Linked DNA regions of Homo sapiens: all the other regions are reported to be linked to region 3. Evidence: microRNA targets listed by miRTarBase, many of them from high-throughput screens and not tested one by one. Region 3 holds a microRNA gene; each other region holds the end of a gene's coding sequence.
Evidence for each region. Region 3 holds the annotated microRNA hsa-miR-4717-5p (UAGGCCACAGCCACCCAUGUGU, at 1,155-1,176, opposite strand). A microRNA usually pairs through its seed, bases 2 to 8, with sites in the 3' UTR of a target mRNA and lowers its output. Matches are read on the target gene's strand: a 7mer-m8 pairs with bases 2 to 8, a 7mer-A1 pairs with bases 2 to 7 and ends in A, and an 8mer does both.

Region 1 (3,344 bases), not on the chromosome of region 3:
TTTGGGAGGCCGAGATGGGCAAGGTCAGGAGTTCAAGACCAGCCTGGCCAACATAGTGAAACCCTATCTCTACTAAAAATACAAAAATTAGCCGGGCATGGTGGCACGTGCCTATAATCCCAGCTACTCAGGAGGCTGAGGCAGGAGAATTGCTTGAACCTGGGAGGTGGAGGTTGCAGTAAGCCGAGATCACGCCACTGCACTCAGCTCGGGCAACAGAGTGAGACTTCGTCTCAAAAAGAAAAAGGAGTGGCCTTACCACTAGCCCTGTGGTCTTCAGTGACTTAAAATGCCAACGACCCACTTCTTATAACTGGGGTCATGAGGTCAACTTAAATAAGGCATCAGCTTGCCTGGCACAGGCAGTGGTGATGGTGAGGATGTCTGGTTGTAAGAGAACTGACAGTGGGGGAAAGAGGGGTTCATCCTTAGGTCCTGATGAGGAGCTCTCACCCCCGCCTCTTCTCTCTCCTCCTCTCCAGCTCTGATTGTGGGTGGCATCGTGGGCATCCTCTTTGCCGTCTTCCTGATCCTACTGCTCATGTACCGTATGAAGAAGAAGGATGAAGGCAGCTATGACCTGGGCAAGAAACCCATCTACAAGAAAGCCCCCACCAATGAGTTCTACGCGTGAAGCTTGCTTGTGGGCACTGGCTTGGACTTTAGCGGGGAGGGAAGCCAGGGGATTTTGAAGGGTGGACATTAGGGTAGGGTGAGGTCAACCTAATACTGACTTGTCAGTATCTCCAGCTCTGATTACCTTTGAAGTGTTCAGAAGAGACATTGTCTTCTACTGTTCTGCCAGGTTCTTCTTGAGCTTTGGGCCTCAGTTGCCCTGGCAGAAAAATGGATTCAACTTGGCCTTTCTGAAGGCAAGACTGGGATTGGATCACTTCTTAAACTTCCAGTTAAGAATCTAGGTCCGCCCTCAAGCCCATACTGACCATGCCTCATCCAGAGCTCCTCTGAAGCCAGGGGGCTAACGGATGTTGTGTGGAGTCCTGGCTGGAGGTCCTCCCCCAGTGGCCTTCCTCCCTTCCTTTCACAGCCGGTCTCTCTGCCAGGAAATGGGGGAAGGAACTAGAACCACCTGCACCTTGAGATGTTTCTGTAAATGGGTACTTGTGATCACACTACGGGAATCTCTGTGGTATATACCTGGGGCCATTCTAGGCTCTTTCAAGTGACTTTTGGAAATCAACCTTTTTTATTTGGGGGGGAGGATGGGGAAAAGAGCTGAGAGTTTATGCTGAAATGGATTTATAGAATATTTGTAAATCTATTTTTAGTGTTTGTTCGTTTTTTTAACTGTTCATTCCTTTGTGCAGAGTGTATATCTCTGCCTGGGCAAGAGTGTGGAGGTGCCGAGGTGTCTTCATTCTCTCGCACATTTCCACAGCACCTGCTAAGTTTGTATTTAATGGTTTTTGTTTTTGTTTTTGTTTGTTTCTTGAAAATGAGAGAAGAGCCGGAGAGATGATTTTTATTAATTTTTTTTTTTTTTTTTTTTTTTTACTATTTATAGCTTTAGATAGGGCCTCCCTTCCCCTCTTCTTTCTTTGTTCTCTTTCATTAAACCCCTTCCCCAGTTTTTTTTTTATACTTTAAACCCCGCTCCTCATGGCCTTGGCCCTTTCTGAAGCTGCTTCCTCTTATAAAATAGCTTTTGCCGAAACATAGTTTTTTTTTAGCAGATCCCAAAATATAATGAAGGGGATGGTGGGATATTTGTGTCTGTGTTCTTATAATATATTATTATTCTTCCTTGGTTCTAGAAAAATAGATAAATATATTTTTTTCAGGAAATAGTGTGGTGTTTCCAGTTTGATGTTGCTGGGTGGTTGAGTGAGTGAATTTTCATGTGGCTGGGTGGGTTTTTGCCTTTTTCTCTTGCCCTGTTCCTGGTGCCTTCTGATGGGGCTGGAATAGTTGAGGTGGATGGTTCTACCCTTTCTGCCTTCTGTTTGGGACCCAGCTGGTGTTCTTTGGTTTGCTTTCTTCAGGCTCTAGGGCTGTGCTATCCAATACAGTAACCACATGCGGCTGTTTAAAGTTAAGCCAATTAAAATCACATAAGATTAAAAATTCCTTCCTCAGTTGCACTAACCACGTTTCTAGAGGCGTCACTGTATGTAGTTCATGGCTACTGTACTGACAGCGAGAGCATGTCCATCTGTTGGACAGCACTATTCTAGAGAACTAAACTGGCTTAACGAGTCACAGCCTCAGCTGTGCTGGGACGACCCTTGTCTCCCTGGGTAGGGGGGGGGGAATGGGGGAGGGCTGATGAGGCCCCAGCTGGGGCCTGTTGTCTGGGACCCTCCCTCTCCTGAGAGGGGAGGCCTGGTGGCTTAGCCTGGGCAGGTCGTGTCTCCTCCTGACCCCAGTGGCTGCGGTGAGGGGAACCACCCTCCCTTGCTGCACCAGTGGCCATTAGCTCCCGTCACCACTGCAACCCAGGGTCCCAGCTGGCTGGGTCCTCTTCTGCCCCCAGTGCCCTTCCCCTTGGGCTGTGTTGGAGTGAGCACCTCCTCTGTAGGCACCTCTCACACTGTTGTCTGTTACTGATTTTTTTTGATAAAAAGATAATAAAACCTGGTACTTTCTAAACTGCTTGCCTCTGTCATTTTCGTTCATAACAAGTCATCCTTTTTGGGCTCTGTATCCCCTTGATCTCAGTGGAGCATGAAGAAACTCCCCGGACCAAATCCCCTACGGGGTGCCAGACATGCCGGGGGTGGGCAGAGGGTGGGGGCAGAGAGGTAAGAAGGCAGGAAGGGGCCTAGAGAAGAGGGAAGACTTCAGAACATGCACCCTGATGGCCTATGCAGCATATCACCCCTACTTCAAGGTTTTGTTTAGGTGGCACTGTGTTTAAATAGCAAACACAAAAATCTTTGCGTCAGTTGCCATCCATAGAAATCAGGAGGTTTCTCATAAAAATCCAGATTTCTCACTTTTCTTGGGAAAAAGAAATAAAAAAAATTGGCAACTGTCAGCCTGCATGGCAACAAGAGAGCTGCTGAGCGGCAGGCACCCATCTAGATGTGGGCTCTCCGCACCACTGTCTCCGCCTGCTTCACTCAGGCCACTGCTGCAGCCAGGCTGGCTGGCAGTCTCCGGAAATAGCATGGGCCATCTTTCTTGACCACTATAACAACCCTGTGAGGTGGGTAAGATCCTTGTTACCAAGAGGGCAACCTGCCCCTAGTGTGTCTGGAGAGTCGAACCTTAATTTCAGGTCCTTGGACATTGGTGATCTTCCTTTGGCACCATGTTGCCCAGTACTTTGCTGGGGTTGGGGAAAGGACGCAAACAGGAATTGGTGGTAGTTGGAGCAAACC
Region 2 (3,000 bases), not on the chromosome of region 3:
CCTGTGAAATTAAGATCACCCCTTTCCACTTACTTCACCTGGTGATTGAAAGCATCATAGTATTTTATAAATGCCAAGAATTATGCATGAAGGCTCGGCGCGGTGGCTCACACCTGTCATCCCAGCGCTTTGGGAGGCCAAGGCAGGCAGATCACTTGAGGTCAGGAGTTTGAGACCAGCTTGGCCAACATGGCGAAACCCCATCTCTACTAAAAATACAAAAATTAGCCGGGTAGCGCATACCTGTATTCCCAGCTGCTCTTGAAGCTGAGGCAGGAGAATCGCTCGAACCCAAGAGGCTGAGGTTGCAGTGAGCCGAGATTGCGCCACTACACTCCAGCCTGGGCGATAGAGCGAGTCTCCGTCTCAAAAAAAAAATGTGCATCAAGCATAGGATTGCTTCGAGTTTGCCCACCACAAGTGTATCTTTTTAATCAGGACATGGCATGTGTTTCCCCCAAGCTCATTTTAGAGACCAGGGCAGTGGGAGTAGTTGTAAAATGTGAGAGGCAAAGGTCAAAGTTTGTGGCTCTTGTCTTTAAAATGCAGAAGCTGTGGAAACACATCAAGCACAAGTATGAGAACAAGTAGTTCCTTGGAGGCCCCCATCCAGGCCAGAAGGACCAGGTCCACCCAGCAGCTGTTTGCCCAGAGCTGGAGCCTCAGCTTGAAGATGATGCTCAAGGTACTCTTCATGGACCACCATTCGCTGTTGGCAAGAAACGGCTTTACTTACAAAACAGACTCTTTACCTTCTGCTGTGTTTGAAGTATGTTTAGTCAGCATGCTCAGGAAATAAATGTGAATTGCCCTTGAGACCTGCTTCTACATTGGTTGCTTTGTTAACTCTACCTGATCTTCACTTGTCAGTAATTTGAGACCACTTCAAAGCCCTCTGCAAACACCCCAAAGGCAGAATCTGCTATTTTGAGTTTTCCATTAACTTCCAAAGAATTCTGGTTTTCAAAACAGGAGCCAGAGTTGGAGATATTACAGTCAACTTTGGCTTCTAAGCCAGTAATTCCATTCTTAAATACCTCACTGTCTTGGCCATGGGGAAGCACTATGGCCTCAGCTGGGGGAAAGACCCTGGCCTAGGGGTCTTAGCCACTCCCCACCCTAGGGTATAGTTCAGGGGTATCCAATCCTTTGGCTTCCCTGGGCCATGTTGGAAGAATTGTCTTGGGCCACACATAAAATACAGTAACCATAGCTGATGAGCTAAAACAAAAAACAATGGTTTGTGCAAAAATCTCATAATGTTTTAATAAAGTTGAAGAATTTGTGTTTGGGCCTCATTCAAAGCCATCCTGGGCTGCGTGCAGCCTGCAGGCCACGGGTTGGACAAGCTTGGTGTATTCTGCCTATTACTGAGTATCTTTTGGTAAGCAGTCATACCTCTCTGGGTCACAGCCTCCTGCCACAGTTCCACTCTGATGAGTTCAGTTCATAAAAGTGCTTAGTTGGTGGGTTTGAATCCTTACTCCACTGATTCTAGCTATGGGAACCAAGGTGATATGGTTTGGCTGTGTCCCCACCCAAATCTCGTTTTGAATTGTAGCTCCCATAGTGCCCATGTGTTGTGGGAGGGACTCGGTGGGAGATAATTGAATCATGGGAGCGGTTCCCCCACACTGTTCTCGTGATAGTGAATAAGTCTCACGAGATCTGATGATTTTATAAGGGGTTTCCCCTTTTGCTTGGCTCTGATTCTCTTGCCTGCTGCCATGTAAGACGGGCCTTTCGCCTTCCACCATGATTGTGAGGCCTCCTCAGCCATGTGGAAATGCGAATGCATTAAACCTCTTTTTATAAATTACCCAGTCTCGGGTATGTCTTTATCAGCAGCGTGAAAATGGACTAATACACAAGGGCAAGGCACTTGAACTTGCTGAACTCCGGTTTCCTTATCTGTAAAATGGGGTAGTAGAACATACTGTGTGGGATTTTTGGGAGTATTAAAGGAGTTGCAGGCCTGTAATCCCAGCACTTTAGGAGGCTGAGGTGGGAGGATTGCTTGAGGCCAACAGTTTAAGACCAGTCTAAGCAACATAGTGAGATACCCTGCCTCTACAAAAAAATTTAAAATTACCTGAGCATGGTGGCACCAGCCTATAATCCCAGCTACTTGGGAGGCTGAGGTGGGAGGATTACTTGAGCCAAGAAGTTAAGGTTACAGTGAGTTATGATTGTGCCACTGCACTCCTGCCTGGGGGAGAGTGAGACCCTGTCTCTAAAAATTTTTGGCTGGGCATAGTGTCTCACACCTGTAATCCCAGCACTTTGGGAGGCCAAGGCAGGCGGATCACTTAAGGTCAGGAGCTCAAGACCAGCCTGGCCAACATGGTGAAACCCCATCTCTACTAAAAATACAAAAATTAGCCGAGTGTGGTGGCATATGCTTGTAATCCCAGCTACTCGGGAGGCTGAGGCAGGAGAATTGCTTGAACTCGGGAAGTGGAGGTTACAGTGAGCCGAGATTGCGCCACTACACTCCAGCCTGGGAGACAGCAAGACTGTCTTGCTCTGTCATCCAGAATGGAATGCTATGGCCTGATCTCAGCTCAATGCAGCCTCGACCTGGGTGCAAACAATCCTCCCACCTCAGCCTCCCAGGTAGCTGGGACTACAGGTGTGCGCCACCACTCCCCACTAGTTTTTTTGTATTTTTTGTAGAGGTAGGGTTTTGCCATGTTGCCCAGGCTGGTCTCGAACTCCTGGACTCAAGACATCCTCCTGCCTTGGCTTCCCAAAGTGTTGGGATTACAGGCGTGAGCCACCATGCCCAGCCAAAAATGTTTTTAAATTAAATTTTTAAAAATAGAGGAGCTGTAGGCCGGGCGTGGTGGCTCACGCCTGTAATCCCAGCACTTTGTGAGGCCGAGGTGGGTGGATCACGAGGTCAGGAGATTGAGACCATCCTGGCTAACACGGTGAAACCCCATTTCTACTAAAAATACAAAAACATTAGCCGGGCGTGGTGGCGGGCGCCTGTAGTCC
Region 3 (3,344 bases):
CTTTCACATTTCAATCACACAAACGTGGGACGTTGCTTTTCCCAGAAGGGAGCACACGCAGAGAATACACTGAGGTGAAGGAACAGGCCCATAACACAAAGGAAAAAGCCGGCTAGATCAACGCCCGGTGACAGGCTCTTAGTCTAAAGACAAGAGCAGGTGGGGCTGTGTGGGAAGCACAGGTCTGGTGGGAGAGAAGCTGCTGGCATCAGGGTCACCCGTGGGCATTTGCCATTTCCCAGAAATAACTCCTCATCAGCTCCCTTTTTAGTTATTTATGGAGTCTTGCTTTGTTGCCCAGGCTGGAGTGCAGTGGCGCAATCTTGGCTCACTGCAACTTCTGCCTCCCGGGTTCAAGCCATTCTCCTGCCTCTGCCTCCCGAGTAGCTGGGACAACAGGCACGCGCCACCACACCCAGCTAATTTTTGTGTTTTTAGTAGAGACGGGGTTTCACCATCTTGGTCAGCCTGGTCTCGAACTCCTGACCTGAAGTGATCCACCCACCTCAGACTCCCAAAGTACTGGGATTACAGCCATAAGCCACCGTGCCTGGCCCCTTTTTATGCACTGTTTTGTGTTTTGTCTTTTGGAGACAGGATCTTGCTCTGCTGCCCAGCGTGGAGTGCAGTGGTGGTATCACAGCTCACTGCAGCCTCAAACACCTGGGCTCATGCAATCCTCCCACCCCAGCCTCCGGAGTGGCTGGGACTAAGGGCATGCGCCACCATGCATGGCTAAATTTTATTTTTAGTATAGACGAGGTCTCATGTTGGCCAGGCTGCTGCCAAACCCCTGACCTCAAGTGATCCACCTGCCTTGGCCTCCCAAAGTGCTGGGATCACAGGCGTGAGCCACCATGCCCGGCGAATGCACTATTATTTCTTATGGTTTTCTAAACCCGATTTGAACTTCTGCATTTTACATTCCCTTAGAATTCAGAGTTTTAGAAAAGACTTGTTTTCATCACTTTGGCTCATTTGGGACAATTTCAAGTCTGTGTTTTTATCAGTCTCTGGAAATTTATGAAAGCTGCAAATCGTCTCCAGTAGCTCTTTTATTCCCTTTAAACTTCTGCCATCTAGTTCCATGTTATAAAAAATATAACGTGTTTGGGCAGTGTTTAGGCCACAGCCACCCATGTGTAGCCACCCCTACACATGGGTGGCTGTGGCCTAAACACTGCCCACGAGAAAAGTTCTGAAGTGGGCCCTTCTGGCCCCACAGCCTGTCCGCAGGGGCTGTGGCCTCTAGGTCGGGCCTGGGGCTAGGAAGAGGGAAAGGTCAGTGCACGAGGCCACCCAGCTCCATGTCCATGCCCATGGCCCTTCTGCAGGGCATCCTCAGACTTGTTTTCAAGCCCATGTGTTAGAGATTTAGGAATGTGTCATTTTTCTCCTGTGACACCCTAAAAGAGGGTTGGGGAGAGCGTATAGGACTGAGGGCACAGCCCGCATGAGGCACACACGTGTGAGGCCAGCGTACACAGGACACGCACAGGAGATACCATCCTTCCCGGTAGCACGCTGCCAGCACCAGCAGGGGTCTTTAAGTAAGGACTGGCACAAGTAGAATGCCTTCTTAGGAAAATGATCCGCAGCTCAGGAGGCTGCTGCGTGGGGACCGGGAGGGGCAGGTGCATTCAGGGCGTCTGTGGCAGGGGCCCAGGGCTGCACCCAAGCCTGGAGCTTAGATGACCCCAGGAGCAGCAGGAAGGGCCCATCTGGCATCCCAGGGAAATCCTCAAGGCCTCTGGAAACTCAGTGCTGGAGCTGGGTCACCAGGGGTGCCCTAAGGAGCCTGGGACTGAAGCCTCAGGACCCTGCCCTGGCCGATTTTTGTCTGAGCTGTGGCAGTTCCCAGCCCACGGGAGGGCAGGGGAAAAGAGCCTTGGGCCCAGGGATAGGAGTGACCGGCCTATCCACGCTCCACCCTAGACCACGGAGGGGGGCCACACATTCTCTACGGACACTGTCCCCAAACAACTGTGGCATCTGACAGAGCCAACTCCTGCCCTGCTCCCAGTTCACCTTAGACCTGGGAAACGAGGTTTTGACTTCACTGCTCTGCATGGCCTGGTGCAGGGCTCCCGTGAGCAGACGGCCCATGGGCCACGAGCCAGGTATGTGGAAGAGCCTGTGCCTTCTGTCCTCCAGGCCGGCCCAGTCCAACGGCGTGGCTCAACTGAAACCACACCCAGAACTCGGAGAGGGGAAGACCTCGCGGTGGGGCGGGCCCAGGCCAAGCCCCTCCACTGCCATCACAGGTTTACAGCGGAGCAGAGGGGCAGGCCGGATACAGGCAGCCCAGGCCACAGGTCAGGGGACCCACACCAGGCCACAGGAACAGGCTTGCTGAGGGTATCAGAAAACCCCAGGTCACAGTGGTTTGAAAAAGAAGTTTATTTCTCAGCCATGTAGGCAGGAGGAGGCAGTCCAGCACTCGGTCACCTGAGGTCTCAGGGAGGCAGGCTCCATCTGCTGCCCCGTCATCCTGGTTCACGCCTCCCTCCTCATGGTCACCTCTGTGTTCAAGGAAGTGCTTGGCCGGGCATGGTGGCTCACGCCTGTAATCCCAGCACTTTGGGAGGCCGAGGCAGGCGGATCATGAAGTCGAAAAATCAAGACCATCCTGGCTAACACGGTGAAACCCCGTCTCTACTAAAAATACAAAAAAATTAGCCGGGTGTGGTGGCGGGCACCTGTAGTCCCAGCTACTCAGGAGGCTGAGGCAAGAGAATGGCGTGAACCGGGGAGGCGGAGCTTGCAGTGAGCCGAGATCACGCCATTGCACTCCATCTGGACTACAGTGAGACTCCATCTAAAAAAAAAAAAAAAAAGGAAGTGCTCAAGTTCAGGCCGGGGTAGGGTGTGTGCAGTGGCCTCCGTCAAGTGTGTGTCACCCCCAGGCAGCTCCCTGCTGCGCCTGGACCCAACTGTGCCCTTGGCTCACTCCATCTTGCTGGGTTTCCCATCTCTGTCTTACTGGCTGCTTTCAGAGACCAGGCCCAGAGTCCCCAGGACTCAGGTGACCTTGGCTACCCTGGAATCCTGGACTAAAGATCTGCAATAGAAATGTGTCCAGCAGGGAATGTAATGTGTCCAGCAGGGAACCATCCTGTTTGCTTTGCTTTTCTGAGTTCCTACAACCAACCGGCCAGGGCGCACTGTGGGGCACAGGGATGCAGGCCCTGGAGTATGGCCACTTCTGCCTGGGGGCGTCTGGGGGGTTTCCTGAGTGAGGTGGGGTCTCACCAGCTCCAGGAGACACCACTGCCATGCACAAGGTAGGTGTGGGGGTGGAGGATCACCTCCGTGAGGACCCAGACCCCACCCACTGTGGCTGT

Region 1: miRTarBase lists SDC4 as a target of hsa-miR-4717-5p. Seed matches in the 3' UTR shown: 7mer-m8 at 1,023-1,029.
Region 2: the mRNA of UQCR10 is a reported target of hsa-miR-4717-5p. Seed matches in the 3' UTR shown: 7mer-A1 at 1,091-1,097.

Annotation. Positions count from the first base shown.
Region 1 is chr20:45,324,554-45,327,897 of GRCh38, reverse strand. It overlaps SDC4 (syndecan 4), which reads left to right. Exons shown (of 5, transcript NM_002999.4): 5 at 483-2,610. The coding sequence ends at 634. Among named protein-coding and RNA genes, the nearest start is that of MATN4, 18 kb to the right of the region's middle.
Region 2 is chr22:29,769,129-29,772,128 of GRCh38, forward strand. UQCR10 (ubiquinol-cytochrome c reductase, complex III subunit X) reads left to right here. Exons shown (of 2, transcript NM_013387.4): 2 at 550-1,285. The coding sequence ends at 591. Among named protein-coding and RNA genes, the nearest start is that of UQCR10, 3.3 kb to the left of the region's middle.
Region 3 is chr16:2,272,461-2,275,804 of GRCh38, reverse strand. MIR4717 (microRNA 4717) reads right to left here and starts at 1,185; the gene lies at 1,114-1,185. MIR3677HG (MIR3677 and MIR940 host gene) reads right to left here. Exons shown (of 3, transcript NR_132988.1): 3 at 2,733-2,818.